4 linked regions of the Homo sapiens genome follow. The protein of the gene in region 3 interacts with the protein of the main gene of each other region in a pairwise test. Each region holds a gene or a part of one and is shown on either strand. Other genes may lie near its edges.

Region 1 (7,727 bases), on a different chromosome or scaffold from region 3:
CAACTTCCGCGAAGCTTACAGGGATGGGAAGGGAAGTGTCTGAAGAAAGGAGCAACTCACCCACTAGACCCCTCCTTCACTCCTCTGAATCACCAGCCCCAGAGCCTACTTTGACCCCTAAACCCCAGTCCGGTTCAGCAGATGCCCTAATTCCACAACCGTCCCCCAGATTCAGCCCCACCTTCTTGGAGCTTTGGTAAAATAAGGAATAAATATGAAATTCTCCCCATGCCAAACCTCCCACTGCTGGGCTCAACTGTGTGACCTTGGGCAAGGCTCTGCCCTCTCTGGGCTCCTGCTTCCCTGAGAATCTCTGAGGCATACCCTCCCTTAAAGGGATCTTACCTTATCTCTTTGAGGACTCAGACAAACTGAAGGAAGATCCCCTCCTTTTTGCTGAGTCCTCCCAGAACCTCCCTTAAGCACCAGTGGGGGTCAGAAGCCTTGGGTAAGGTTGACACCCCATTTATTGGAGAAGACCCCAGCACCCGCCCCCTGAGGTCTTAAGGGCTTTGGTGTATCCTTGGTCACGAGCGCTGGGCCAGGAAGCAGAGTTCCTGAGAGCCAAGTCTAGTGGTTGAGAGAGGACCCTGGCTGGGCCTGGGGAGCAGGAAGCCATCTGTCCAGCTGGGCAGCCCCCATGGGTCCCTGGTGCAGCCCCGGCCATGTGTCCAGCGCCCCATACTCCATGAGGGGGGTCTGCACCCCATCACACGCTGGTTCTGCAGGTCTGCACCCCTGTGAGGCTGCCCCTGGGGGGCATGGGTTCTGTTGGGCTCTTGCTCCCAGCATGGATGACCCAGCGATAGCAGTCAGTGATGCGCTTGTTGGGTGCATGGGGGCCACAGCGGGTGCAGTACACGATGCCCAGTGCAAGCAGGACCACCAAAAAGACACACGTTGGCACCAGGAGTGCCACCAGCAGCCACCGGTCATCCCTCTGGCTGTGCTCGGCAAGACCAGCCTCCCCCAGGGCTGTTGGGGCTGCTGTGGGAGCTGGTGAGGGCAGCCACAGGGCCAACTTGGGACTGGGGCCATCTTCCCTTGGGATTTGGGGGGCTTTGGAATGGGGATGTGTAGGGCTGATGGGTGAGGTCTGGTTAGTGGGGCTCTGAGAGGGCAGGAGGGTGGGGAGGGCTGCGGGCTGGGTGGCAGCAGGCACAGAGATTTGATGGGCAGGAGACACAGGGGACCTGGAGGTGGTGGTCAGAGAGGGCTGGGCAGTTGGGATAATGGGAAGCTGGGTGGCCTGGGTTCTGAGGACAAGGGCATCTGGGGCTTGAGGGGGTAGCTGGGCACCGAGGGTGGTGACCAGAGGGGCATGGTTAGGTGGGATTCCAGGCAAATGAGTGGTGGTCTGGGTGCCAGCGACCCGGGTGTCTGGAAACATGGGGGACTGGTGGGCAGGGAAGAGCTCCGGATATTTGGTTGAGATCATAGGGGGCTGGTGGGCAGGAGGCTGTGCTGAATGAGAGACAGAGAGAATACCGGGTTGGTAGGCAGAAGGCAGATCTGGATAGTTGGCTGCGATCACGGGGATCTGGTGGTCACGGGACAAAGCTGGGTGTGTGGCAGGGATCACAGGAGGCTGGTGGGCAGAAGGCAGTGTGGGATGCGTGGCAGAGACCACCACAGGCCGGGTGACGGAGAGCACTGAGGAGTGGTAGGGGACCCTGGGGGCACTGAGCGGGGGTGGCCAGGTGGGCTCCGGGTAGGGTATCTGTGGCTCTCTGTCCTCTGGGAAGCTCGGTCTATAGGCCAGGGCAAAGTCAGGCGGCTGCGTAGGCTCCATCCACAGGATCCCAGGCATCTCCGTCCAGCCACCGTTGAAGGCCTTCCAGGCCTCGTCTTCATCTTCCTCATCCTCCCCGTCATCCAGCAACTCATCTCCGAGGTCCTGGGAAGCCTGGGCACCCATGGCCCCTGCAGGGCTGCAGCTGATGCCATCAGCCTCCAGCTCATGTCCCTCGCTACAATAACACTCGAAGCCACCAACGTAGTTGACACACATCTGCTGGCACACACCGGCAATCTGGCACTCATCTGTGTCCACACAGCGGTGCGGATCATCCTCCGCTGGCCGGAAACCCAGGCGACAGTGGCAGCTGTAGCCTTGTGGCCCACCGGGCTCACACTGCTGCTCGCACGGAGCCTGGGCACAGGGGTCCTCGCAACTGCGCCCGTCTGCTGCCAGCCGGAAGCCCTCAGTGCAGCGGCAGGACACGTGACCATCCACCTCCTCCACACATTCGTGTTCGCAGCCCCCGTTGTCAGGGCTGCAGCCAGTCCCCAGGCACAGGGGCCCAGCCCGTGACCAGCCCACACCTCCCTCAGGCTGCTTCACGCAGAGCAGAGAGGCTCCCCTGCCAGCCTGGCACTGCACAGCGGCCACAGAGCCGAAGGGCAGCCACTCAAACTCTGTGGAGACCAGGTGGAAGGGCGTGGTATACACGGCTGGGCCGGCCTGGCCCGCCTCATCTTGCAGCGCCGGGCAGGCGCCCTCGAAGCCAAACTGGCACAGGTAGCCGTCGACAGCCAGCGTGCACGAGCCCTCCAGCCAGCGGTGCTCGCCACTTGCCTCCAGGGCCACACAGCGCTGGGCCGGGCAGGGGCCTCCAGAGGCTGGCTGGGCCCAGTTGGTGAAAGCCGTGTCCTGGTCCCCTGTGGTCCACGTGAAGCCGCGCAGTGGGCGCTGCAGCTGGCATTGCCGGGCCTGCCGCTGCAGCCCGATCCACAGCAGCCGGCTGGCTGGGCCCGCACCCACCAGGCTGTCCACACGCTGGGCCTCCTCGGGGGTCCGAGGAGTGGCCAGGTCGCCCCCCAGCTCGCGGCAGGCCCGCCAGGCCTCCAGGAAGGTGCGGCGCCGTGGGAAGAGAGCGTAGCAGCTGCTGGGGCCGCAGGCGGCACGGGGCTCAGCAGCCCAGGGGTCCTGGCCCAGTGTGGGCCCTGCGGCCGCCCAGGCCAGCAACAGGCGCAGCAGCATCGCGATGCCCCCGGACTGGTCCGGCCCCGGGCTGGCGGCAGCTCTTGACAGGGGGAGGGCCTGGGGCCTCCTGCGGGCGGGCCGGGGGCGGGCCTGGGGCCGGGCTCAGGCCTTGTAAGGAGTGGGCTGGGGCGGCTGCCAGCTCCCTGCTCCCTCTTCCCCGGGGGCCGCTAGAGCAGGAAGCAGTGGGGTGGGGGGCTCTAAGGTTGGGGGCGGAGGAGGGGAGAAGGCGCAGTTGACGGCTGCCCCAGGCCCCATGGGGCTGAGAGTCAGGGGGTGGGAAAAGCCTGCCTGCCGAGCTCTGTGACCCTCAAGTTGGGGCTCGGGGCTGTGGGGTGAGGTCGCTTCCCAGAGACTCAGAGACCCAAATCTGGACACAGCAGCCCCATCACACCCGGGAGCAGTCTCAGCCCAGCTGCTCGCCATGCACGGGAACACCCTCATGCCCACTCCTTTCTTGCCCCACAGACGCGCGCATGCGCCTCCCCCACCCCCAACCCCATGCAAGAGTGCACTCTCTGCCAAGCTGTTTGTCCCTTCACCTCACCGTGGACCTATGCTGGCTTGCAGATGACTCCCTTGCCACACGTACACACATTCTGACATGCTGAGACCCTAGGTGCACATACAAAAATGGTGTGGCATTCTACATGGCCTGACATATGAAGACCTCCGATTCGGCCTGAATGGAAACAGCTTGGTCACCCAGGCACAGGCATCCTCAGCCTCTCATTTATTTACTGAGCCCCTGCGTCAGCCTCTCCCCCTATACTCAAGCTTTCTGGTTCCAGCTGGGCCAGCGTGTGGGGGTGTTGGGGGAGTGAGGGGGCCAGGGGCTGCCCTCCCCTCACCCCAGCTCAGCCTGGGGCCCTGGGAACCTGGGCTTAGAGGGGGAGGAGGCAGCCCCTAAACAGGAAATGCCTCTCTGGGCTCCTGCGTCAGGAAGGCAGGGTGCGTGGTTTAGGGGGCTGGGTGGGGGCTGGGCTGCACGCAGGATGTGGAAGGCTGTGAGGGGACCCATGCAAGGCCATGTATGGGCATGGGGCACACAGTGACATATATGTGTATATGTGACACAGGCATCACGTGTGTGGAGCCCTCCCTGCCCCCGGGGCCTGCTGTTTCGGCCTGGCCAGGGTCCTCTTCCCGCCCTTCCTGGAGGCCTCTGGAGGCATGTGCACTGAGCCCATCATCCAGGATGGCCTCTGGGGAGCTGGCTGGCGGATTAACCCATGCACACCCGCTGCACTCTTAGCAGAAGTTAGAAACAGTGTGGGGAGGTGGGGGAGAGGTTCCGCCCTTCAGTAAACTGCCCTGATGCAGCTTCCCCCTCTGCCACAGATGGATCGACTTTGTGACTGCAGGGGAGTCACTGGCCCTCTCTGGGTCTCCTTTTTTCTCAGTTGCAACATGAGGGCAATGAGTCCAGGATTTTTAGCTCAGCAGGGCTGAGATATTGCGTCACAGCGCTCAGTGTTTGCAAATGTGCTTTGTCAGCTGTGGAGCCTGAAGCAAATGTTCCTGTCTTCTGAGCATATGTGGTGGGTGGAGACCAGGGTGCGTTTTTGCAAACCACCTTACAGTGCCTAGGCTGGCCCTGCAGACCCAGCCAGCCCCTCGAGAACCAGGGCTTAGGAAGTTCTTGCCATATGCCTGGAAGTTCCTTCTTACAAGGTCTATACATGTGAAGCACACAGAATGACTCCCCTTCTCAGGAGACAAAAGTCAAGATGGAGGAGTTCATCCTTCTGTTGGCTCAGGCCCCAAACCTTGAGGTCATGCTTGACTCCTCTCTTTCTCCCACAGCCCACATCCAGTCTCTCAGCAAATCCTGTTGGCTTCACTTTCAAAAGAGATCCAGAATCTGACCACTCCTGGACACCTTCTTTGCCACCCACCCCCGGCCCAGGTGGCTAGCAACGCCAATCTAGATTTCCCCAACAGCCTCTCCCGTGGTGTCTCTCTTGCCCTCTCCATCCTGCCAGAGGGATCCTTTCAAAATCCAAGTCAGATCTGATCACTTCTCCATTCAGAACCCTCTGAGCCCCCCATCTCGCTTAGAGGAAGGGCCACAGTCCTTGCCATGGCCTCCTGGTCTATGTCATCTGCCTCCAAACTCTGGCCTCATTGCTGTTCCTTAAATGCTCCAGACACTCTGCCTCACAGCCTTGGTCTTGGCTGTTCCTGCTGCCTGGAATGCTCTTCCTCCAATATAAAAATGCTCTGCTTCTTTACCTTCTCCAGGGCTCAGCTCAAGTACCAGAGTCCTTGACCATCTCACCCCACCCCACACCGCCCCCTGGGGCTCCTTGACCACTGGATCTTCCTGCATTTTCTCGCTCTGCACTTATCACTATCTGACATTAAATATATTTACTTGTGAAATTAGTTGGACGTGGTGGTGCACCTGTAATCCCAGCTACTCGGGAGGCTGAGGCAGGAGAATCATTTGAACCTGGGAGGTGGAGGTTGCAGTGAGCCAAGATTGCGCCACTGCACACTCCAGCCTGGGCGACAGAGCAAGACTGTGGAAAAGAAAAGAGGAGAGGAGAGGAGGGGAGGGGAGGGGAGAGGCGAGCGGGAGAGAAAAAGAAAAGAAGGAAAGATGTTGGGAACAAGCCCCCCAAAATTTGGCCATAAACTGGCCCCAAAACTGGCCATAAACAAAATCTCTGCAGCACTGTGACATGTTCATGATGGCCATAACGCCCACACTGGAAGGCTGTGGGTTTACCAGAATGAGAGCAAGGAACACCTGGCCCCGCCCAGGGCGGAAAACCGCTTAAAGGCATTCTTAAGCCACAAACAATAGCATGAGTGATCTGTGCCTTAAGGACATGCTCCTGCTGCAGTTAACTAGCCCAACCTATTCCTTTAATTCAGCCCATCCCTTCGTTTCCCATAAGGGATACTTTTAGTTAATTTAATATCTATAGAAACAATGCTAATGACTGGCTTGCTGTTAATAAATACGTGGGTAAATCTCTGTTCGGGGCTCTCAGCTCTGAAGGCTGTGAGACCCCTGGTTTCTCACTTCACACCTCTATATTTCTGTGTGTGTGTCTTTAATTCCTCTAGCACCGCTGGGTTAGGGTCTCCCCGACCGAGCTGGTCTCGGCAGAAAGAGAGAACGAACGAAAGAAAGAAAGAGAAAAGACTTACATGTTAGACCTAAAACCATAAAAACTCTAGAAGAAAACCTAGGCAATACCATTCAGGACATAGGCATGGGCAAGGACTTGATGTCTAAAACACCAAAAGCAATGGCAACAAGAGCCAAAATTGACAAATGGGATCTAATTAAACTAAAGAGCTTCTGTACAGCAAAAGAAACCACCATCAAAGTGAACAGGCAACCTACAGAATGGGAGAAAGTTTTTGCAACCTACTCATCTGACAAAGGGCTAATATCCAGAATCTACAATGAACTCAAACAAATTTACAAGAAAAAGCAAACAACCCTATCAAAAAGTGGGCGAAGGATATGAACAGACAGTTCTCAAAAGAAGACAATTATGCAGCCAAAAAAAACACATGAAAAAATGCTCATCATCACTGGCCATCAGAGAAATGCAAATCAAAACCACAATGAGATACCATCTCACACCAGTTAGAATGGCGATCATTAAAAAGTCAAGAAACAACAGGTGCTGGAGAGGATGTGGAGAAGTAAGAACACTTTTACACTGTTGGTGGGACTGTAAACTAGTTCAACCATTGTGGAAGTCAGTGTGGTGATTCCTCAGGGATCTAGAACTAGAAATACCATTTGGCCCAGCCATCCCATTACTGGATATATACCCAAAGGATTATAAATCATGCTGCTATAAAGACACATGCACACGTATGTTTATTGCGGCACTATTCACAATAGCAAAGGCTTGGAACCAACCCAAATGTCCAACAATGATAGACTGTATTAAGAAAATGTGGCACATATACACCATGGAATACTACGCAGCCATAAAAAATGATGAGTTCATGTCCTTTGTAGGGACATAGATGAAGCTGGAAGCCATCATTCTCAGCAAACTATCGCAAGGACAAAAAAAACCAAACACCGCATGTTCTCACTCATAGGTGAGAATTGAACAATGAGAACACGTGGACACAGGAAGGGGAACATCACACACCGGTGACTGTTGTAGGGTGGGGGATGGGGGAGGGATAGCATTAGGAGATATACCTAATGCTAAATGACAAGTTAATGGGTGCAGCACACCAACATGGCAAATGTATACATATGTAACAAACCTGCACGTTGTGCATGTGTATCTTAAAACTTAAAGTATAATAATAATAAAAAAAATTTTTTAAAAAGAAAGAGAGAAAGAGAGAAGGAAGGAAGGAAAGGAGAAGAAAGAAGGGGAAGGAAGAAGGAAAGGAGAGGAAGGGAGGGGTGGGGATGGGAGGGAAAGGAAGGGAAAGGAAGAAGGGAGGGAGGGAGGAAGGAAGGAAGGAAGGAAAGGAAAGAGAGAGAGGAAGGAAGGAAGGAAGGAAGGAAGAAAGAAAAAGAAATTTACTTGTGGATTTGCTTATTGCTTATGGCCCAAATCTCCCCTAGCCAGTGTTTCTCAACCTTGGAGTTACTGGTATTCAGGCCTCGGTAATTACTTGTTGTAGGGACTGCGTGGTGCATTGCAAGGTGTTTAGCAGTGTTCCTGGCTCCTATGTAGATGCCAGTGGCATCCCTCCAGTTGGACCATCCAAAATGTCTCCAGACATTGCCAAATGTCATGTTCCC
Region 2 (7,970 bases), on a different chromosome or scaffold from region 3:
GAGTACTTCCCTGGACAGCTGTGGACATTCAGTCCTCTCGGTTTATTAAATCACATCTAATTTCTGGAAGCTTCTGTCACAGCTGTTAAAGCACTCTTAATAGGAAACCCGAGACCACGAGCATGGCCAGAGAGCCCAAGTGAGCTGCTTCCGATGCTACATTTGCCAGGAGCCTACCAGGAGCCGGGCCCTGTTCTTCGTGCTAGGGATGGGGGGTAATGAGACAGTCCTGGCCCCCAAGAGCTGATATTCTGGAGCGGGGGCACAGTGATGAGCCACACAGATGTGGACGGTGTCTTCTGGGGATGACAGCTGCTCCAGAGAACAGACAGAGGGAAGCCCTGGGGTGGTGAGGAGAGGCAGCTGAAGGGGTGATGTTTGAGCACAGACCGCAGGAAGTGGCAGCACAAGCGACGCAGGCTTCAGAAGGGACAGCAGGAACGGCCACTCACGCAGGTCCAGCTGAGACAGCGAGAGGGAGTGGGGACTGCATGACGCAGGGCCCTGAGCAGCTGGGGAGTCCCTGGAGGCTCTAGACAGAGGTGAGATGGAACCTGGGTCCACCCTGGCTGCTGTGGGACCAGGCATTGGCAGGAAGTGGTAATGAGAGGGCAGACTTGGATGTATTTTGAAAGCCATGCAGTAAGGTTTGCCTGTAGATGGTAAAATTGAGAAGGAAGGAGTTTCATGTTGGAGATAAAATTAAGTTACAGGACGGCAGGTTAAGGGGATCAGAAGTTTGTTTTGTAGCAGCTGAGCATGGTGGCTCACGCCTGTAATCCCAGCACTTTGGGAGGCCAAGGCAGACAGACTGCCTCAACTCAGGAGTTCAAGACCAGCCTGGCCAACATGGTGAAACCCCATCTCTACTAAAGATGCAAAAATTAGCCCAGCGTGGTGGCGCACTCCTGTGATCCCAGCTACTTGGGAGGCTGAGGCACAAGAATCACCTGAACCAGGGAGGCAGAGGCTGCAGTGAGCCGAGACTGCGCCACTGCACTCCACCTGGGCAACAGAGTGAGAGTCTGTCTCCAAAAAAAGAAGTTTGTTTTTTATGTCAGGAGTTAAATTTGAGGTGCTTTTTAGGCTCTCCATGTGCTGGGGTGACAGGCGGCCACACGCATCTGGAGATGTCAGTGTGGCGGCCAACCCTGCGGAACCGATAAGCCTGGGTGAGATGGGCCCCTGGGGAGCAAGTGTGGCTAGAAGCCACCCCTGGGCCATGGCCCACACCCCAGGGCTCCAACACTTAGTGCTGGAAATAAGGAGGATCCAGCAAAGGAGACTGAGAAGAGACACCTGTGGCCAAGAAGTGTACCAGACGCCATGCGGGAAAAGTGACCCAGGCTCAGGGGTCAGTTGTGTGAAATGCTATGCAATCGATCAGTGTCACAAGGCTCACTAGTGATGTGACAGAGCTCTCGTGGGAGTGGAGGAAACGACTTCAAGAGAGAAGGCGCAGCAACTCCATCCCCAAGTACATACCTGACAGAGGCAAAACAGATAGATGCACTGCAACACAAGTCCCACCAAAACTGGCCAAAACAATGTTTGTTTTGTTTTGTTTTTTGAGACGGAGTCTCGCTCTGTTGCCCAAGATGGAGTGTAGTGGTGCGATCTCGGTTCACTGCAAGCTCTGCCTCCCAGGGTCAAGTGATTCTCCTGCCTTAGCCTCCTGAGTAGCTGGGATTTCAGGTGCGCGCTACCACGCCCGGGTAATTTTTGTATTTGTAGTAGAGAAGTAGAGACGGGGTTTCACCATGTTGGTCAGGCTGGTCTCCAACTCCTGACCTCAGGTGATCCACCCAGCTCGGCCTCCCAAAGTGCTGGGATTACAGGCGTGAGCCACCACGCCCAGCCTCCAGAACCATGTATTTGTCATCCAAAAAATGGGGCCACCCAAATGCCCTTCAATTGTAGAACAAATCAGTAAATTCTGGCACTTGCATTCAATGGAATATTATGTGGCAACGAAAGCGAATGAACTGCAATCCACTCTGATAGCGGGCAGGATAGGGTTCCCTTTGGGCAGGAGAGAGGAGGAGGGCCTGGGAGGGGGTCCAGGTAGGGGTTCTTCTCGGGGGTAGTGATGTTTTATTTCTTATTTTGAGATGAGGTATCGCTCTGTCACCCAGGCTGGAGTGCAGTGGCAAGATTATAGCTCACTGCAGCCTCGAAGCTGGGTTCAAGCGATCCTCCTACTTCAGTCTCCCGAGCAGCTGGGACTACAGGGGCACACCACCTTGCCTGGCTAATTTTTTTAAATTATTTGTAGAGGTAGGGTCTCCTTCTGTTGCCCAGGCAGGTCTCGAACTCCCAGGCTCAAGCGATCCTCCCGCCTCGGCCTCCCAAAGTGCTGGGATGACAGGCTTGAGCCACCGCGCCCAGCTGGTAACGTTTCAGTTCAGTGACGTTCACTTGGGGAAAACTCGCTGGGCTGTATACTTATGATTCGTGCATTTTTCTGCATGTACATTACGTATACTTCAAGCAAAGCATTTATCACAAAACAGAACAATGGGAGCAGAGGGAATGGGAACGATGAGCACAAGCCCCCCTTCGGAATGTGCCCAAAAGTGGGTAGAGAAATGGTGCCGTGACTGGACCTTGGAGAAAGCGCAACTGTGACTAATGACGATTGCTCCTGGGCCGGGCCGGGCCGGGCCGGGCGAGTGCTGGAGCAGACTCCAAAGTCTCCAGCGTCCTCCCGCGACCCTGCAGAGTCCCTTCCCACTGCCAGGACGCCCCTGGGGGTTCCACTCCTCCACTGCACTGCCCAGGTGCCGGGCTCCCTTCAGGACCGCGCGCGGCGGGGGCTGCAGCGACCAGGGACACAGCAAACCCCGGCCGCGGCCCGCTAGTCTGTTCAGCAAACACCTGCTCCGCTCCCTGCACGTCCCGGCCCTGGCCCCGCCAGGTGCGCCGCTGCCCCTCCGTCCGCCACTCCCCGCATCCCCGCGGCGGGCGCGGCGGCGCCAGCCCCTCTGGGCCCAGGACCTCGGCCTGTCCCCGGGCCCAGCGGCCGCACGCCTTTGGGCCTCCCGCCCGGCGCGCCAAGGCCTCGGAGTCGGTCCGCGGGCCCCGGGTCTGGGCCTCCCGCGCCCCCGGGTCCCCGCCTCTTACCGGTGGAAGGTGAGCTGCTTCCTGCGGCTGCTGTAGCGGTTGCAGCACTGCCGGGCCGCGCACGACTTCGGCATCTCGAGCCAGGCCTGGCTGCCCCCAACAAAGATGGCGGCGGCGGCGGGGCCTGCGGAGAGGGGAGGGACCTGCGGGGAGGGGCGGGGCCGCTGGGAGGTGGTGACGGGCCTGGCTCGCCTCCAGGGCGCGCTCATCCTGCCATCCCAGCCACCCGCGTCTCCCCAGGGTCGGACGGGACCCGGGGCGCCACGTAAAGGGGTGCTCCGGGCCCCAATTCAGGCCCGAAACCCCAACTCCTAGCCTTGGGCCTGTGCAAGTCTTACCCCATTCGCCAATGCTGGTCGCCTTTCACCTCCTTGCTTTGAGCACCCAACCAGGACGCATAGCCACTCACAGGCTTGGACAACTGGAAACCAACGGCCAACCCCTCAGTGTTTTTAGGGCTTTGAATTGTGAATAGGTCTGGACTCCTCTGACGTCACTGGAGGTGGTACTAGTTGGCCACTGGTGGTGTCAGTTCAGAGGCCAGACAGCTCACTGCCCTTAAGTTTGGTCACAGGGAACCCCCAAACGTGAAGAGGCAAAAAGGGCAACTGAAGGGGAGGGAGATTCCAGTTCAGGCCTTGCAGAAACTCCGAGGCTGCAGCTTTCTCAAAGCAGCCTATAGGGAAGGCGTCATCTTGTAAGAAGAAAAAAAAAAAAATCGGCCAGGCGCAGTGGCTCACGCCTGTAATCCCAGCACTTTGGGAGGCCGAGGCAGGCGGATCACCTGAGATCAGGAGTTCAAGGCCAGCCTGACCGACATGGTGAAACCCCATCTCTACTAAAAATACAAAAATTAGCCGCACATGGTGGCGGGCACCTGTAATTCCAGCTACTCGGAAGGCTGAAGCAGGAGAATCTCTTGAACCCGGGAGGTGGAAGTTACAATGAGCCAAAATCTCATCACAGCACTTCACAGCCTAGGTGACAAGAACGAAACTCAAGTCTCAAAAACAAAAAAAAAATCAAAAGTAGGCTAACCACTCACTGGGGCTTGAGCTAATCCTCAATCTGATGAAGAAACTGCAAAAACCATTCACATCTACTCGTCCTGTGGTTTGTTTCTAAGGAATTCACCAGCAAGGTACCTTAACACCGTGGGCATTTTCCATCCTGCTAAGTGCACACTGAGACGCTGCCTTCCCAGAGACTTGATGTAATCATGCTTTGGGGAGGTAGCAAGGAGAAAAGAAACACAATTGTCCTTCAGCACAGAACGCAATCGCCTGAACCTTGAATCATGAACCTCAAAGTAGCAATATATTTATTTACAAAATATACAGTTTCACAGAAACAGCTTCGCTTTATACACATAAACTTTAAAATTACACAGAACCATGTAAACGATGTGAAGTGTCTGGCCTGGCCAAAGCCAATGGGAGGGCCTACTTTTGGGGTGACATCCCTCCCTCCCCTCACTTCATTAGCCACCAACCAGGAACCACAGATGGGTCGTGCCTAATTTGCATATAAAGAAGCTGATTGCAGCTGCCCAGCTCAATCTAACACAAAAACCAAGGTGTCCGACTTCTTAGACACCACCCACAGGGACAGATCTGCTAAAAGAACAAAAATGCAATCAAGGAAACAAAATGGAGATGAGTATCACATGCATTCCAGAGGCATCGAACCTTCTAGCACACGTGACAGTTGCCAGGGCCGGCAGTTCCATTCTAAAGTCACATGGATTCTTAAATGCACCTTTAAAAGCTTGTGGAATTTTTTTTTTTCAAAGCAGAAAAACACTTTGGAGCGCTGGTTATTCACGTGGTGAAGACACTGGACAGGCGTTATCTCAGGGTAGATCTTTGGCAAATTCCTCTCCAATGCGTCCTGGCTGTTTGCCCTCGTCAGTTTCTAAACCAGCTTACTATTTTTCTCTACCGAACCTCCCCCTTGGGGATCTTCACAATAAACTGGCTTCAGAAACTATTTCTCTCTAGTTTCGTGTTAATACAAGCAACAGAACTTTTAAAAAAATAAGACGGTTGGACAAGTGTGAAAGATACTAGGACAAAAAAAATGCCTCTGATTAGCCAAATTACGGTTCAAGCCCCTTGGTGCTTCAGTGGGAGAAGGTGGGAAGAGTCTGCCTGGTGGCCTGGCACAAAGGTGCCACATGAAGGGGAAGCCCCCAGCAGTGAGAACGCGGGCCCATCCCACTGAAAACAAACATGACTTGCTTGAGCATTCTTCCCTTTCCATGCCTTAAAGAAACAATGCTTATGAAAACCTACCAATCAATTAGAAAATGTTTTGAGAACAAGTACTTGAACTGCTGAAGAGCAGTGTTCATTTCAGAGAAAGCCGGAGCCCCTCTCCCTCCCAGCCCCAGAACTACCAGTGTTCCAGGGCACCCTGCCCTCGAGCAGAGTTCTTCCACAGCCTCCGGCATCAACTCCCAGGTTTTTCCAGAGCTGGCCCTCACAGGGGCCTCCCAGGTCCAGGATCCCAGCTGAGATTTAAGGAACTCGGCACAGTTCCAAGGGGTCATCCTGAAGGCCCATGTTACCCTATCACTCACTCACCAACTCAAAACAGAAAAAGAAAGACTCAAGTCCTAACTGTACCCTGTGGAACCGGCAGGCCAGCCTGTCTAAAGGGCACACAAGAGTCACCCAACGGAGAGGGCTCCCTCCCAGCTCTCCTTTACCCTATTCTTTGGAGGAACACCATGCGGGTCCCAGTGATTGCCTAACCTTTATGCTGCTACCAGAATGAGGTGAAAGGAAGAGACAAAGACAGAACCTATGAGTTCCCACACTCGCAAACAGCTGGCCTGAGCCCACCAAGACCTCACACACCAACTAAGAGGGCACTCAGCAAGAAATCAGCCAATACTTTTGGCTGTATCGTGCAAAAAGACAGGGTTTTTACATCGTGCAAAACAGGAAACTGAGTTATGAACACGGGCCATCTCAACCCCCCAACCAACTCCCTTTCCACAGAGAAGTGGCCACATTGTCCCTTTTAACAAACAGAAGGAAACCTAAGAACCACCAGCTGACCCGCCAGCCCAGCGCCCTTCCAGGGGAGCCCGAGGCCTCCCGCCAGTGCCTCCCCCAGCCGGTCAGGCAGCAGCTGAGGCAGGCAGAGGGCAAGCCACTAAGTAGGGGCAACTTGGATGGCTGCTGTACAGACACTTTTGGTAAAAGACTTAACACTCAAGAAAAAGCTTACACGTATGGCTGTTCATTAACAGGCTGGGGAAACCGAACACCTCTCCCCAACACAGTGGAAGCAGAATAACAGCTGGCACTGAGCCCAATCAGCGGGAATCTCTTAGCAATGATAGCAAAACGCACAGCTACCACGGACCCTCATTTTCAAATGAGCCAAACCCGCTGCACGTGGGTGTCCAGTCCACCTCCACTGCAGGGAACGCAGCTCTGGCAGCAGCTCTGGCTGGCAAAGGTCGCATTCGGTCACCGGCTATGTACAGTTTCTACCTTGGACAGCCTGTCCTTTTGCTTAGGCACCTAAATGGCAGGGATCTGCCCGCACCAGAGCTGAGGGTTCTGTGCTCAACTAAGAGAAGGGCAAAAAAGCCCGCGGTCGCTTCCGATTCCACGCTCGCAGCCTCCTCGCCAGCCAGCAGTCAGTCCAGGAACAGCTTCCGGGAGCCCGTCCGCGAGCGGTTGGAACGGCGGATGTCAAACTTGGAGTCCCGGCACTTTTGGCAGACAAACACTTCTGGAACATTGGATTTCCGGATTTTCGCACAGGACAGGTGAATCCAGGTGTGGCACTCATTACACTCGATCATGGGGCGGCCGGCAAATGGCTTCATGCAGAAGCAGGTCACGAGGTCCCAGGAATCGTCATCTGGAAGGAAAGATACTCTCAAGGAGGGAAGAGAAATTCCCATCATTCCTCGCCATCAGCTGGGCTTCCATGAAACCCATTAACTCTACTGACGAGAACACTTCCAACTGCCACTCGAAGCTGACACTTCTCTCTGAAAAGGCACGAGGGGCTCCAAAATGTGTGGGAACCAGGTATTACCCAGGAGATGCTTACTTTTTTTTTTTTTTCCCTAAGACAGGGTCTCACTCTGTCACCCTGGCTGGAGTGCAGTGGTGCAATCATACCTCACTGCAGCCTCAAACTCCTGCAGTCAAGCCATCCTCCCACCTCAGCCTCCCAAATAGCTGGGACTACAGGCACACACCACCACACTCGACTATTGTTTTTTTTTTTTTTCTTGAGACGGAGTTTTGCTGTCGCCCAGGCTGGAGTGCAATGGCGCGATCTTGGCTCACTGCAACCTCCACCTCCTGGGTTTAAGTAATTCTCCTACCTCAGCCTCCTGAGTAGCTGGAATTGCAGGCGCGCACCACCACGCCCAGCTAATTTTTTCTTTTTTTTTTTTGTATCTTTAGTAGAGTCGGGGTTTCACCATGTTGGTCAGGCTGGTCTCGAACTCCTGACCTCGTGATCTGCCTGCCTCGGCCTCCCAAAGTGCTGGGATTACAGGCATGAGCCACTGCGCCCAGCCTTTTTTTGTATTTTTGCAGTGACAGGGCTTTGCCATGCTGCCCAGGCTGGTCTCCAACTCCTGAGCTCAAGCAATCCACCTGCCTTGGCCTCCCAAAGTGCCGGGATTACTGGTGGAGCCACCGTGCCCGGCCTGGATGCTTACCTGGATGCTTACTTAGAACTATACCCTTTTTATGTTCTAAGGTCTTAGAATCTCAGCTGTCTCTAGTGGCAATCAACCCCTTCCTAAACATCTCGATATCCACATTCCTGCAGCTTTTCTCCTCCTTGGACAGTGGGGCTGTCACACT
Region 3 (7,824 bases):
ATTGAATATGAGAAAAATGAATAACTTGAATGTATATGTTTTTTATTTCAGTGTCCTTGAGCTTTGTAAGGTCTTTCTAAGTTAGCATCTCCTATACCTTAAACTACAGTTGTCTAAGAGTTAGATAAGTATAGAAATGTTAATTCAGAAGAATAAAAACATTCTTATGCTTTCATACAGAGGCAGTCTCACTGTATACATATCTATGGATGATACATATGTGCTTTTGTATGTCTATGGCGCAATAGAAACAGAGTTTTAAACATTACGCTTTAGCAGACATTACAGTGTGGAAATAGGGACTCTGAGAGAAAAAATAAACACAGAACCACTTATTCTCTGGGAAAGAAAAGACAGACAAACAGAGCATGCAAATAAGTCGCCTATGAAACACCATTTCTTTTCCAGACCTCACCTTACATGCCCTCTTTTTTATTTCCTTGCCTTGGACAAGGGTTTATTTTGGGGTTGGTGGAGCTTCATCAGAATTAACTATGGAGAGAATTCCCTTTGTCTTCTTAGCTGACCTTCTTCTCAATCTCTTTAAAACCGGTAAGCTTTCTGGGTCAGTTTCCTGGTGAAGAATGGTGCTCTTGCTTTCTGCTTATAAGGCCAGCCTGGGAAAGGTGTGTTTTCACTTTATTTGTGACATTTTACTGGGTGCATGAGCTTTCAGGGAAGGAAAGGAAGGAGAACTTGATTCATTGGAAGCCACAGTAGATGTCTGGCACCGAGAAAGTGAAATGGCTAGGAGAAAAAAATAATTCTCTTAGTGAGTTTGTGGCCCCGAATGATATGAGATGGCAACAGGAGACAAGGGAGGTTTGTAATTCTGGTAATCCAGTGACAGGAGTTTGGCTGTCTGTCCCCAAAACATTTACCTTCACTGACTTAAAGTTTTCTGTGAAACAAGAGTTTCTTTTGGGGATTGATGCTCATTTTTGTATAATTATGATCTTTAGTGTAATTATGCATCAGATAGGAGAGTGCACACTAGGCTTCAGGTCTTGCCCTCAATTTCTATCATTTTGAAAATAATAAAAACTATATAATTATGGTGACAAAATTGGAGGGAAAGAGAGGTAGCTTCATGTATACATACCTAACTCAATTATTTTCTAGAGGAGATTACAGACCTGTGTGAGAAATTATATAAAGAACTAAAGATAACCACAATACCAACTTCTGTCCCAGGGACAAAGAATCAAAGTGTGATTCACAGAGTAGTGGCGGCAGCAGCAGCAGCCTTGGCGGTCCTCCCTAAATAGAACAACCAGAATCTGCATTTATATTTGTGTGTACAGGAAAGAGTGAGACACGCTTATCCGCAGGACTTCAGTCATGAAGCTGCCTCAGGTGCTTTTCTAAACAGAGTCTACCTGCCTCATTACCAGCTCCCACAGGAGTAAGAGTTCAATTACAGGATAAGTTTCTAACACTGTTTCTTCCCTCCTACCCTCATACCCATAGAGATTCACCTCCTGCTTAATATTGGAAGGTTGAGACTATGTATTAATAGTTCTCTTACAAGTCAAAGAATAGCAGAAATAGAGGGTATTTCAAACCAACCTTTAAAATTTCATTTTTAATAGTCCTACTGACCATATTTTCAACATGAGTGGCAGATTTCTGAAAAGATAATAATAAAATATTTGGCCACAAAGAACCATGTTAGTTTTATAATACATTATATTATCACATATCTATTCATAAGGCAACTTTGTAAAACGTACATACACATGCGTATCTGGATATAAAACAAGTAGGCATGTGATAAAATACAGGGACTTCACACTTGTGATTTTAAATATTCTAAATTCAAGGTAATAAAATTTTATTTAGCTCACAATTCTGACCCTATCTGATGTTTACAGGATATTATAATACTTTTAATGATAATAACATTGTTCCCAGTTAAATGTTAGCGTACCTAACAAGTATTACAGATTCCCAAGGAAACTAAGTATCTAAATGAAGAATAGCTAATGTTTAGTTTTTTCAAAGTTGGGGTCTTTAATTCCCTGTTTGTTTCTACACCAAGGGGGGAAAAGAAGAAACAACAAAAGGAGATTTGATTATTTGATAGTGAAATATAAAGATCTTGTTCAAATTTCTGTTTATCTTCTGTAAATCATGTGGAATGGCAATATTCACTAATGAAGTGTCAACCCTCAAATTCTTGATACGATATGTGATTTTCTATGACTTACAATTCACTATTTGAAACAAACTGTGGGCATGGGCCTACTGGGTAAGTTTGTGACCATCATGAAATTTTCTTTTTCTGTAGTTAAATCACTAAATGTTATCAAAATTTGTTGGTTAGCCCTGATACTGTAAGGATCGTGCATTGCAGATAAATCCTTTATCAAATATACTTAGTAAATGATGGAGTATAGCATACTATATATCATCTAGGAATATGGCATATTATATACATTTTGTTAAAGAATATTTATGTACCTGTGAGCTTTATCATTTGTTGTCATTTATGGCCTGAGAAACAGAGTGGGCAAATCTCGCAAGAAAAGCAAATTGTGGCCACCTGTGTTTCTGTAAGTATGGGACATATAAGTGGGTTTATACACACATACAATACACAGGAGATTTTTATTTTATGTGGTTTGACTTAGAATGACGTATTTGTAGAATTGTGGAAAGAACCAAAGGTGACTGACTCATCCACTGAGTCACTGGTGAGGGTTAAACCTTTGTGTTTCTCAAAGCTGATTCCACATAACAGCAAACTCTGCCCAAAAAGGATTAGTGCATTTTACCCTGGTCTCTGAGAGTGCCAAATACAAAGGGCTGTGACTCCCCTGATAGGAGGTTGCCTCAATATCCTTGTCCCTCTCCCTGTCATCATCTGAGCCTCAGAGATATCCCTCCTCCAGGGCATAATTTACAGCTTATAGCCACTGGCCCTGTTTTTCTCTCAATGTCCTACCTCTTAGTTTGTACGACTCAGAAGATCTGGGCTCTGAATTTGGATCTATCCTTGCATGCTGTAACTTTAAGCAAGTCTCTTGAATACTTTGAGCTTCATTTTCCTTTACAAAATGCTGAAACTGTCAGCTGGGTGCGGTGGCTCACGCCTGTAATCCCAGCACTTTGGGAGGCTGAGGCGGGGGGATCACAAGGTCAAGAGATTGAGATCATCCTGGCCAACATGGTGAAACCCCATCTTTACTAAAAATACAAAAACTAGCTGGGCGTGGTGGCGCCCACCTGTAGTCCCAGCTGCTTAGGAGACTGAGAAAGGAGAATCGCTTGAACCCGTGAGGCGGAGGTTGCAGTGAGCCAAGATCGCGCCACTGCGCTCCAGCCTGGCGACAGAGCGAGACTCCGTCTCAAAAATAAATAAATAAATAAAAATGCTGAAACTATCTATTTTAGTTACCCTACAGGGTTGTTTTAAGACGTTCACAGGAGGTAAGGTAGAAGTTTGTTGAATTATAAAGTGCTACACAAATGTAAACAATCAACGGCTTTTCAACCACATACAGCCAGTTATTTAGACTTCAGAGAATTCTTTTTTCTTTTTTCTTTTTTTTTAGGCCAGTGTGTCTCAAATTTCAGTGTGTATGTGGAGGGCTTGCTATAGCAGATTGCTTGACCTCCATCGCTAGAGTTTTTGAGTCAGTAGGTCCCTGGTAAGTCTGAGAATTTGCATTTCTCACAAGTTCTCAGGTGATGCTGATACTACAGGATACTACAAGTGTGATCCACAGGTGGGCATCTTAAGTATCACATAGTTGCATTAAAAAAAAAAAACAACAAAATCTCAGGACCTATGCTGGAGGGACTAAATCAAAGTCCACATTTTAATAAGACTTCCAAGCGATTCGCTAGCATATTGAGGTTGGAGAAGCACTGCATTCGATACTTCACAGCCACGGGAGCACAGTACCATCAGCTGGGGAACTTCTAAAAAATACTGCTGCCACATATCCTCTCTTCTCAGAAATTCTGATGTAGTTTGTTTGGGGAAGGGACTGGGCACAGGTTGTCGTTCTTTTGTTTTTTAATGATTCTGCTATGTACATAGAGGTAAAAACCAATGCCTAACTGGATAAGGAGTCTCCTTTACAGATCACTTTCAGGGCAGCACTAAATAGATATCAGTAAAAAAATTGGAGTCACATTGTATCGTTTGAGAAATATATCAGTAGCCAAAGATGAACAAATTCAAACGGGAGAGAGGAAATAGACCACCATAAACCCATTTGTTTGTTACACAATTTCATCCTTATGAGCCATGGAAAATGGGGTGACTTTATTTAATATGGATCAGATTTACATAACGTCTATGGAAATAACATAAAGCTTATTATTCTGTGCTGTCTCTCATTTGGGTTAGACAAGGTACAGAACTGTTCTAAGTTGTTTTTGTTGTTGCTTCTAATGCTATCACTAAGGGAGAAAACAGACAATATTTAGACAAGGAAACTGGCTTCTGTGCCAACATATTCAAGCACAGTAAATTCTGTGCACTTATATATATGAACATGTGATTTGCTAAATAATTGTATAATTCATCTCAATTTTATATAGTGATTTCTCTTTAGTTGAAACTTATAGAAAAGCCTATGTCATAGATAAAGACTTTTCATAAAGGATGTAATAAGTTCAAAATGGTCAACAAGTAGTCAGAAGATCAACCTCTTAATAGCATGAAATACTGTAATTTATTAAATAAAGATAACTGACAACTATTTTTGCCTACTACACAAGCTATTTTTATGATCAAATGATATTGTATGTATCAAAGTATTGTATAAACTCTATAATGGTATAAACTATAAACTCTTAAGACTATAGTCATATATTTACAGCAGGATATAACTTTTAGAAAATTTTAAAAATGTAAGAAAACAAGCCTTTTATTCTTATTTCTATGCTATACACAGGCCATTTGCACTACGATGTTTTTATTATGTCATTTCAAGTCCTTTAAAGTCACAAGTATCTTACGATATAGTTGAGTTTCTTATCAGGAGTGCAGGGCAAGTAGACTTTTTTTTTTTTTTTTTGTAGTTACCTGTAATTAAAACTTAATCTCCAGTTAATGTGTGATTAACCTTTACAAAATAAAACACTTTACTTCAGATTTTGTTAATTACTGTAGGAAAACCTCATAGATATGTAGAATAGGAAAGGCCTTGGAGATTAGGCAGTCCACCATCTCATTTTAAAGTGTTTTAACTGAGAAGAGAAAAATTTAGTTCGTTATCCAAAAACTTGAGTGATCAATTGAGAATTAGAACTCATGTATTTTAATTTTCATTTCACAGTACCACTGAGATTACCTTTTTGGTTTTCATTTTATCTGATGAAATGCCATTTTTATTATACATAAATGTATCCTTAAAATTGTCTTTCTCTCCTCTTCCTTCCTCTCCTTTTCTCTCCTCTCCCCTTCCCTTCTCTCCCTTCCTCCTCCCTCCAATTCTTCCCTCTTGCCTTCTCTCCTCCCTTCTCCTCTCTCCTTCCTCTCCCCTTTTCCCTCTCTCTTCTCCCTGTAAATCAAATCTGCATTTACCTGTGGAGGATCATCCAGTTAGTGCTGGTCAAGGAGGATTTGTTTCAAGGAAATGTCCCATCTTGCACATGTCTACTATCTGTCTGTACCACATGGGTTTTCCTTCCTCCACTTGCAGCTTCCAGCTTATTGGTTTTTATTATTTTTTTTTCCATAAGTTATTGGGATACAGGTGGTATTTGCTTACATGAGTAACTTCTTTAGTGGTGATTTGTGAGATCCTGCTGCACCCATCACCCGAGCAGTATACACTGCACCATATTTGTTGTCTTTTATTCCTCGCCCCCCTTCCCCCAAGTCCCCAAAGTCTATTGTATCATTCTTATGCCTTTGTGTCCTCATAGCTTAGCTCCCACATATCAGTGAGAACATATGATGTTTGGTTTTACATTCCTGAGTTACTTCATTTAGAATAATAGTCTCCAGTCTCATCCAGGTCATTGCAAATGCTGTTAATTCATTCCTTTTTATGGCTTAGTATTCCATTGTGTGTGTGTATATATATATATACACATATATATATATACACACACATATATATACACATATATATATATGCATATATATATATGCCACACTTTCTTTATCTACTTGTTGATTAATGGGCATTTGGGTTGGCTTCACAATTTTGCAGTTGTGAATTGTGCTGCTATAAACATGCATGAAACATGCGTGTGCAAGTATCTTTTTCGAATAATGACTTCTTTTCCTCTGGGCAGATATCCAGTAATGGGATTGCTGGATCAAATGGTAGTTCTAGTTTTAGTTCTTTAAGGAATCTCCACACTGTTTTCCATAGTGGCTGTACTAGTTTACATTCCCACCAGCAGTGTAGAAGTGTTCCCTGATTGCTGCATCCATGCCAGCGTCTATTGTGTTTTGATTCTTTGAGTATGGCCATTCTTGGAGGAGTAAGGTGGTATCACATTGTAGTTTTGATTTTCATTAGTAATGTTGAGCATTCTTTCATATGTTTGTTGGCCATTTGTATATCTTCTTTTGAGAATTGTCTATTCACATCCTTAGCCCACTTTTTGATGGGATTTTTTCTTACTGATTTGTTTGAGGTCACTGTAGATTCTAGATATCAGTCCTTTGTCAGATGTATAGATTGTGAAGATTTTCTCCCAGTCTGTGGGTTGTCTGTTTGCTCTGCTGACTGTTCCTTTTGCTGTGCAAAGCTCTTTGGCTTAATTAGGTCCCAGCTATTTATCTTTGTTTTTATTGCAATTGCTTTTGGGTTTTGGGTCATAAAATCCTTGCCTAAGCCAATGTCTGGAAAGGTTTTTCCAATGTCACCTTCTAGAATTTTTGTAGCTTCAGGTCTTAAGTTTAAGTCCTTAATCCATCTTGAGTTGATTTTTGTATAAGTTGAGAGATGAAGATCCAGTTTCATTCTAGCCAGTTATCCCAGGACCATTTGCTGAAAAGGGTGTCCTTTCCCCACTTTACGTTTTTGTTTGCTTTGTCAACGATCATTCCCAAAGCTGTTTTTGCATTTGGTAGAACCTCTATAAGGATCACTTGTTCCTCACAACCCCGGCCCCCTTTTAAGAAAATTCTTTTCCTCTTTTTTTCTGGTACCTCTGCCTGTTACTCAGTCTTCTCATCTGAATTTGACCCTTTCTCCCATTTACTACAGCCGAGTTTCTAAACCTGCTGCCTTCTTATTGTTATTTATGAACTTCTGCCTGGTTAAGTTTCCTACCACTGTCCCTCTCAGAGGGACCCTGATTAGGATGGATGTAGATATTCTTTGAACACCCTCAAGAGGTTCTCTACTCATTATAGTCCTTGTAGATTTATTATTTAAGATCCTTTGAGGAAGGCAGAACTTTTTTCCCCCAATAGATACAAAATTTACCTTGGGCTAACAATGAAGCTGATGGTGGCCAATTGGGAGGAACTGGGTATAGATCCAGCTCTGGCTCCTGAGTGGTGAAGACAGTGTGCAAAAAGCCCTTTTGCAGGTGTCTAGTGGTTTCTGGTGTGGCACGCAGGACAAGATCTCTTGAGGTTTTCTGAGCAGTGAGAGTGAGAGGTGGAGGCAGAGATATCCAACAAGGTCTTATCAAGAGAAGGACAAAGCAGAATAAGGAGAAATAACAGGCCAGCACCCCCTAGGTAGTCCCATAGGGAGGCAGGCAGGGGTGACACGGAGGTTATCAGCTGATGGTGAAGACTCAGTTACAAGCCCCAGGAGTTCAGGAAAGGAACAGAGTCCTTGGGACAAGAGCTGACTTGAACTTGAGTCCTCAGGAATTAGGGACTTAGACCTGAGC
Region 4 (7,824 bases), on a different chromosome or scaffold from region 3:
TTGGCCAAGGCTAGACAACATTCAATACCAAGTTGAGAGTACAACATGCAGAAAGGCACAGCCCAGAGCAATCTCTGACTGGCAGCCTGAAGAATTCACAGGCCTTTCCTGTGTTTAGATAGATAACTTTCTTTCCTTTTTTTTCAGATGGAGTTTAGCTCTTGTTGCCCAGGCTGGAGTACAATGGCGTGATCTTGACTCACTGCAACCTCTGCCTTACGGGTTCAAGTGATTCTCCTGCCTCAGCCTCCCAAGTAGCTGGGAATACAGGCGTGCGCCACCAAGCCTGGCTAATTTTGCATTTTTAGTAAAGATGGGGTTTCTCCATGTTGGTTAGGCTGGTCTCGAACTCCCGACCTCAGGTGAGCCACCATGCCTGGCCTCAGATAGATAACTTTCTAAGAATTAAATGTCTTCCCATTTGCACAGGATTTCATACTTTTCAACTCTTTCCTGTTCTGCAAGGTAGACAGGAAGGAGTCTCCATGTGACAGATGAGGAACAGGAGGCCCTGAAGCAATGGGGGAGCGGTAAGGATGACATCCTGCCCTGCCCTGCCTCCCCCACCTCCCCTGTCCGCTCCCCACCACCATAAGGCAAAAGACACTGACAGTCATAGCTGCTCTCGCAGCTCTGGAGGCTGCACTGACACAACAAGAGTCCTCAGAACATCTTCCACCTCTGCTTTCCCCTTCAATTCACACTATAGTTGGTATGATTCTCAACAACTGTCAGAGGGTTAGTTTTATTACTCCCCAGACCCAAGCAGGCCCTGAAGCGGGGCTTGGAGGGTTCCCTGCTTGTTTATTATTTTTTAAAAAGAACAGAGATACGGTTTTGCTATGTTTCCCAGGCTGGTCTCAAACTCCTGAGCTCAAGAAATCCTCCCACCTTGGCCTCCCAAAGTGCTGGGATACAGGTGTGAGCCACCGCAGCCAGCCAGTCCTGCCTAATTTTTGAACAACCAAAAAGCTTTCAAATGCCATTATCAATGCTCCCCAATCTTGCCTCCTTCACTCCCTTAACCCCTGTCATTATTAAAGCTGCCTCCCCTGGCCCCACAAGCCCATCTCCTCACCCCTCTCCTCCCTACCCTTCAACACCATCCCCAGCAACACCAGCTCTACCAGCACCAGTGAATAAGAATCACAACCTGGATGGGCTCCAAGTCCAACTTCACCACATTCAGATATGGGATTCAGAAAAGTTTCACCGGAGCCCGACTCACATTCTATCATGTGGAAAGCGCTCTGCTGAGGAGCCCTGTTCCTCTAAGATACGCATGTGACAGGGTCTAGTCAGCATCCCACCTGTCCAAATAAGACTTTAAATGAGAGCACCATGGGCCTCTCTGTGTCCCCCTGAGCTTGCAGTCCATCCCCTTTACTCACCGAAGCCTCCGGGGTTTGATCGTGGAGTATAGAAGCTCTGAACGCCACATCTCTTACAGAAGGTATGCTGGGCTTTGTGAGTATTGAACGTGTAAGTCGTTATGTGCTCAGCTCCCTAGGTGAAAACAGACAAACGGTATTCTTTTTTACAAAGAGATTTATTTATTTAATTTATTTATTTATTTATTTATTGAGACAGAGTCTCCCACTGTCTCTCAGGCTGGAGTGCAGTGGCGCAATCTTGGCTCACTGCAACCTCCACCTGCATGGGTTCAAGAGATTTTCCTGCCTCAGCCTCCCAAGTAGCTGGGATTATAGGCGCGTGCCCCCATGCCCAGCTAATTTTTTGTATTTTTAGTACAGACAGGGTTTCACCATGTTGGCCAGGTTGGTCTCGAACTCCTGACCTCATGATTCACCCACCTTGGCCTCCCAAAGTGCTGGGATTACAGGTGTGAGCCACTGCGCCTGGCCCCAAAGACATTTATTTTTATGTCACTTAAAAAATACACCTTTGTAGCCGGGTGTGGTGGCAGGCGCCTGTAGTCCCAGCTACTCGGGAGGCTGAGGCAGGAGAATGGCATGAACCTGGAAGGCCGAGCTTGCAGTGAGCCGAGATCATGCCACGGCACTCCAGCCTGGGCAACAGAGCGAGACTCCGTCTCAAAAAAAAAAAAAAAAAAAACACCTTTGGCCAGGCATGGTGGCTCATGCCTGTAATCCCAACACTTTGAGGCCGAGGCAGGCGGATTGCTTGAGCCCAGGAGTTCAAGACCAACCTGGGCAACATGGCAAAACCCTGTTTCTACAAAAAAATATAAAAATTAGCCAGGTGCAGTGGCACACATCTGTAGTCCCAGCTACCTGGGAGGCTGAGGTAGGAGCATCAGTTGAGCCTGGGGAAGTAGAGGCTGCAGTGGGCTGAGATCGCACCATTAAAAAAAAAAATCTTGAAATAACTTAATGGCAGGAGCTCTTCTGTAGGGCTCTTTGTACTAAGAGGCCATTTCCTATCTCCAGAAGAGACTGGGACCTTCTTGAGGACAGAGACCCATCTACACTATCCAGAGACATGTCAGTCTGGAGCGTGACAGCTCACAGCTTCCCTTAGGTCAACGGCATACAGAATTCAGCCTTGAGCCTTCCCTGATACATCACATCAGGGAGGGAAAGTGCTTGCTTCCCAGGGCCTATGTGGAGAGACAGTTCACCCAAGGGACTGGCTCTCCATGTCCCCAAACAGAACGGCTCAAGGTCTTAAGAAAACTGATGGCTGTGCTTAATTTATCCACAAAGGACAAACCAGGAAAAAAATATTTGCCAGACGTCATAGACAGGCTAATTTCCTTAATGGATAATACAAACGGGAGACTGGACAAAGGACATGAACGGACAGTTCAGATAGAAAGAAAAATAAATCACTCTTTAGCCTATGAAATGCTCACCAAAGGAACTTCAATGAGATGTATTTCACTGTCAGGTGGGCAAAATCAAAGCCGTTAACATGGTATTGACAAGTATGTAGAGAAATATGTGCTCACATATATCAGTCACAGGAACAGGAATTGGTACAATTTAGCAACATCTACCAAAATTTTAAAGTGTACATATGCTTTAGCACACAATTCCATTTCTTGAAATTTATTATACAGATATATTCCAAATGTCTCAATGACATAGGTATATAGATACTATAGCACTGTTTATGAAGGCTAAAGATTGGAAAAATTGAAAATGTCCCTCAATAGAGGACCGGTTAGGCATTATGGACACTCATAAAATGAAATATTCTCCAACTTTTGAGAAGAATGAGACAGCTCTACAAAACTAACATGGAACAATTGCCAAAGTTACAAAGTAAAGCAAGGTATAGGCCAGGCGCAGTGGCTCACGCCTGTAATCCCAGCACTTTGGGAGGCCAAGGTGGGCAGATCACTTGAGGTCAGGAGTTCAAGACCAGCCTGGCCAACATGGTGAAACCCTGTCTGTACTAAAAATGTAAAAATTAGCCAGATGTGGTGGCGGGCACCTGTAGTCCCAGCTACTCAGGAGGCTGAAGCAGGAGAATCACTTGAGCCTGGGAGGCGGAGGTTACAGTGAGCCGAGATCACACCACTGCACTCCAGCCTGGGCAACAGAGTGAGACTGTCTCAAAAAAAAAGTTAAGCAAGGTATAAAACAACGTACGTGGTATGCTACCATTTCTTTTTTTTTTTTTAAGGCTATATACTGGTATGTGTGGTGTTTTTGTTTTGTTTTGTTTTGTTTTTTTGAGACAAGATCTCACTCTGTTATCCAGGCTGGAGTGCAGTGGTATGACGACAGCTTACTGCAGCCTTGACCTCCCAGGATCAAGTGATTCTCCCACCTCAGCCTCCCGAGTACCTGGGACTATAGGCATGCAACACCACACCTAGCCGATTTTTTATTTTTTGTAGACATGGGGGTCTCGCTATGTTGTCCAGGCTGGTGTTGAACTCCTGGGCTCAAGTGATCTGCCTGCCTTGGCCTTCCAAAGTGCTGGGACTACAGGCATGAGCTACTGTGCCTGGCCTGTATGTGCTTTTATATGCATATGTATCTTTGAAGAGGGATCCAAGAAACAGTGGCTTACCTTTAGGGAGAGAAATCAGACAGCTGAAGGGGAAGGGGTGGAGGTTTCTTATCCTTGTTAACCCTCTTTACGCTTCCCCAGCCATACCGTCCAGAATTGTGCTTCCTATAGAAATAGCTCCCTGAGGAGCCTTGCTCACTCCATAGCCACTGCAGCACAGAAAAGCAGCGAAGGACTGCCAAGTGGTCCCAAGCCATCCAGCATTATCTGGATGGAATTAAAGCCCCGCCCAACCCCACATTACCCATAATGTGCTAAAAGTCTTTTTTAAAAAATCTGTATTCTTTAACCTGGAGATTTTCTTTCTCTCTTTTTTTTTAACTGCTCCTTGTAGAGCAGGGTGTAGGAAGTGTGCCCAGAATAGCCAGAGAACTTATTTCTAAGAGAATTGATCCTAAAGAAGAAATTTCTAAATTGTCAAAAATGTATACCAAGGAGGTTCACCAGTGTTGTTGATAATCAGAAAAAAACGGGACTCAACTGCAATGATGCAGAGACAGTGATGGGGTAAGTAGACCAGGAAATCGGCTGTGGGGAAGAGGGAGACTGGGGCATGGGGACAGTAGGGAAAGATTTTTCACTGTGTATATACACATTTTCTTCTACCTTTCAAATTTTGTACCAAGTACAAAAAATTCCCCAAAATAATAAAATTAAAGTTACAAATAAGTATATAAGCTTTTCATTGGGAAATGAGATAAGCAGTTTATCAACAAAAAGAATGGTAAAATTCTACTTAATAAACATAAGACAATAGGTTTAGATGTATTTCTCAGAGTAGAAAATAATACACAAAGACAGACACCAAAATATTAACAGTGGTTACCTTTAGTTGACAGGATTTGGGTGATTTTATTGTTTTTTGATTCTCTGAATTTGAAAATGTTTCCACAATACCAAATAGGCCTCCAAAAAATAAAGGTAAAAAATAACACAACCTTTTATTTTTTATTTTCATTTTTTTTGAGATGGAGTTTCACTCGTCACCCAGGCTGGAGTGCAATGGTGTGATCTCGGCTCACTGCAACCTCCACCTCCCAGGTTCAAGTGATTCTCCTGCCTTGGCCTCCCAAGTAGCTGGGATTACAGGCATGCACTACAACGCCCAGCTAATTTTTGTATTTTTAGTAGAGATAGGGTTTCACCATGTTGGCCAGGCTGGTCCTCAACTCCTGACTTCAGGTGATCCATCCATCTTGGCCTCCCAAAGTGCTGGGATTACAGGCGTGAGCCACTGTGCCGGGCCCACCTTTTAAATGTCAACCTGAAACCAAAGCCCGTGAGAGGCCCTGCTATGCTCCAGGCCCCTCCCATGCTACAGACGGCATGCTAACAGTTGGGTGGGGGGTCCTGTAAATCTCACCAATGGGTTCTGCACTCCTTGACCCTGCTCTTAAGCACTGACCTTCAGGAGCTTGAAGCGAGAAGCTGGAACAATGAAGTGTCTATTCTGCTTCTTCTTGCAAATGCTGCAACTACAGAAAGACAGAGCAAATTCCAGATTGTGAGCAGCCACCTGCATCCTCTATGCCTGAGCGGCCCAGCCATGAGAGCCAGCCGACCCCACAGATGATGCCCCTTTCAGCACCATCCAGGGCCGAGGAGCTGGGGCAAAGGCCTGGATAGCAGTGCCTCTGGTTTGCAGGTACAGCAGAGCCCAGGGGGGTCCCAAGTCAGCAGTCGAGGTTCTGCAATGCTCAGAACACAGGACCAACAGACAGGTCTGTACTGCCCACCCCTCAGTTCTTTACAGTGAAGAGAAGCGCTGGACTTCAGAGACACTTAGGAAACAAATTTCAGACACTGCTACAACCTGATGTCTCTGAGACATCCACACCAAAAATGGACAAGGAAGTTTAGGTTTCCCTCTTTCTTCATCACCACGTCACAAGAAGTCCAGCTCCAAGTAAAACACGTCCCCAGAATTACCATCTCTGGAATTAAACTGAAGTCCCCTCTTTTCAGGCCACCTTTGAAAAAGTTCTAATTTAGCACAGAATCCTCTCACAAGTTATTCCACAGTGCTTCTTTTCCAATCTGGACTCTATTGTTAGTAGCCTGGTCAGTTCTCCATTTGAGTAATTCCATCGTATGTGCTTATTATTCATATATAATTCCGGTACCTAGGGGCAAAAAGGACTGGATGCTGTTAAATAATTAGCTGCATGCCAACTTTGGGTCCCAAAGCCAGAGCCTGTCGTCCCTGCTCCATCATAACGCCGGGGAAGGTGGTACAAATCAGGCCCTCCACAGCCAGCAGTGCCATCTGCCTCAACCGAAGAGCAGAGCGAGAGTGGAGGGCCTGGGGAGCCTCCAGGTGTATACACCCTTTACTAACATACCCTCCAACTCTCCCCAACTCTAGACTTCTATGAAGATTCTGCCCAAGGCTTTCCACTCAGTACCCAGCCAGGCACACCTGCAGCTAACCGCCCCCGGCTCCTCAGCAGTGTCAGTCTGAGGGTGATGCTGCCACAAGCCACAAGCCCTGAGGACCCTGCTCTGTGTCACCTGGGCCATGCTGTTGAAGCTCTGTGATGAGCCATATAAAAGGAACAAAAATAGAACAATGAACCTTTCTGTCCCCATCACCTGACTTCAACAGTTACCAGCCCAAGGCCAATGTTTCCTCTGTACCCCAACTCCCCAGATTATTTTGAAATATTGCATTTTAACTCTGAAATTCTTTTAAGCCAATTTAGGGAAAAAAAAATACTCACTTGCAGTCAAATATATGCAAGTCTGCTGAGGCCCAAACTTCAAAACGAACTGCTCCACAGTGGCAGCCTCCTGTGTGCTTCACCAGGCCCTGGTATTCACTAAATGAAACAAAAATCAGAAAGATAATAATTTCTGAATAGCTGCCTCCTGCTCTCTTTTTGTTGCTGAAAGAAAGACAGAAGATTAGACAAAAGTCTTTTCTACATGACAACCAGATGCATTTCTGCTTTTAAGGAGGCACTGTCAATTTCCTAAGTGAAGAATGGTTTCAGCACCTTCTTTGTCCATGAGCTCTCTTTTCACCAATTTCTTAAATTATATTAAGTTGCAAAATAAAACATTCCAAACATTTCGAAAATGTGAGGGATCCTAACCCACCACCAGACATTTTTATTTATATGTCAAATACTAAATTTTTTTTTTTTTTTTTGAGATGGAGTCTCAGTCTATTGCCCAGGCTGGAGTACGGTGGCACGATCTTGGCTCACTGCAACCTCTGCCACCTGGGTTGAAGCAATTCTCCAGCCTTAGCCTCCCAAGTAGCTGGGATTACAGGCGCCTGCCACCGCGCCCTGCTAATTTTGTATTTTTAGTAGAGATAGGGCTTCACCATCTTGGCCAAGCTGGTCTTGAACTCCTGACCTTGTGATCCACCCACGGGGACTCCCAAAGTGCTGGGATTACAGGCGTGAGCCACTGCTCCGGGCCTCAAATACTAAATATTTTTATGAGCTAGGCACGAAGGAGAGAACACTAAACAAGATACAGCAGACACGATTGCTACCCTTACCGACCTTAACAATTTACTCAAATAATAATTAATTATGATTGTGATAAAGGAGGTACAGGCTGCTATGAAAAATAAGACTGTGTACTCAATCAAGTCCAGAGGTCCAGAAGAGCCTTTTGAGAAACTTAATAAAGGCTCTTATATTTTTGCTCTATTTCTTTCCAGTATTCTTCATACACATGCGTTTTACATAGTTGTAATACACATTACATAGAATTTTTTTTTTTTGAGAGGGAGTTTCATTCTTGTTGCCCAGGCTGGAGTGCAGTGACGCGATTTCAGCCCACCGCAACCTCCACCTCCAGGGT

Evidence for each region.
Region 1: the proteins of LSAMP (region 3) and CD248 interact in binary tests that used the Homo sapiens proteins (3 or more experiments, as listed by UniProt).
Region 2: the proteins of LSAMP (region 3) and THAP3 interact in binary tests that used the Homo sapiens proteins (3 or more experiments, as listed by UniProt).
Region 4: the proteins of LSAMP (region 3) and CENPV interact in binary tests that used the Homo sapiens proteins (3 or more experiments, as listed by UniProt).

The regions. Positions count from the first base shown.
Region 1 is NC_000011.10:66,314,045-66,321,771, forward strand, and holds CD248 (endosialin precursor), read right to left. Parts: upstream 3,001-7,727; 5' UTR 2,984-3,000; coding exon 710-2,983; 3' UTR 450-709; downstream 1-449. UniProt on the Homo sapiens protein: Cell surface glycoprotein involved in various biological processes including angiogenesis, immune response modulation, and tissue remodeling and repair. Participates in pericyte proliferation through positive modulation of the PDGF receptor signaling pathway.
Region 2 is NC_000001.11:6,620,446-6,628,415, reverse strand, and holds the start of THAP3 (THAP domain-containing protein 3), read right to left. Parts: upstream 3,549-7,970; 5' UTR 3,462-3,548; intron 3,267-3,461; 5' UTR 3,198-3,266; coding exon 3,124-3,197; intron 1-3,123. Other genes in the region: PHF13 (PHD finger protein 13), read right to left, coding at 6,779-7,005. UniProt on the Homo sapiens protein: Component of a THAP1/THAP3-HCFC1-OGT complex that is required for the regulation of the transcriptional activity of RRM1.
Region 3 is NC_000003.12:116,435,270-116,443,093, reverse strand, and holds part of LSAMP (limbic system-associated membrane protein isoform 1 preproprotein), read left to right. Parts: intron 1-7,824.
Region 4 is NC_000017.11:16,343,206-16,351,029, forward strand, and holds part of CENPV (centromere protein V), read right to left. Parts: intron 6,825-7,824; coding exon 6,726-6,824; intron 5,481-6,725; coding exon 5,411-5,480; intron 1,507-5,410; coding exon 1,392-1,506; intron 1-1,391. UniProt on the Homo sapiens protein: Required for distribution of pericentromeric heterochromatin in interphase nuclei and for centromere formation and organization, chromosome alignment and cytokinesis.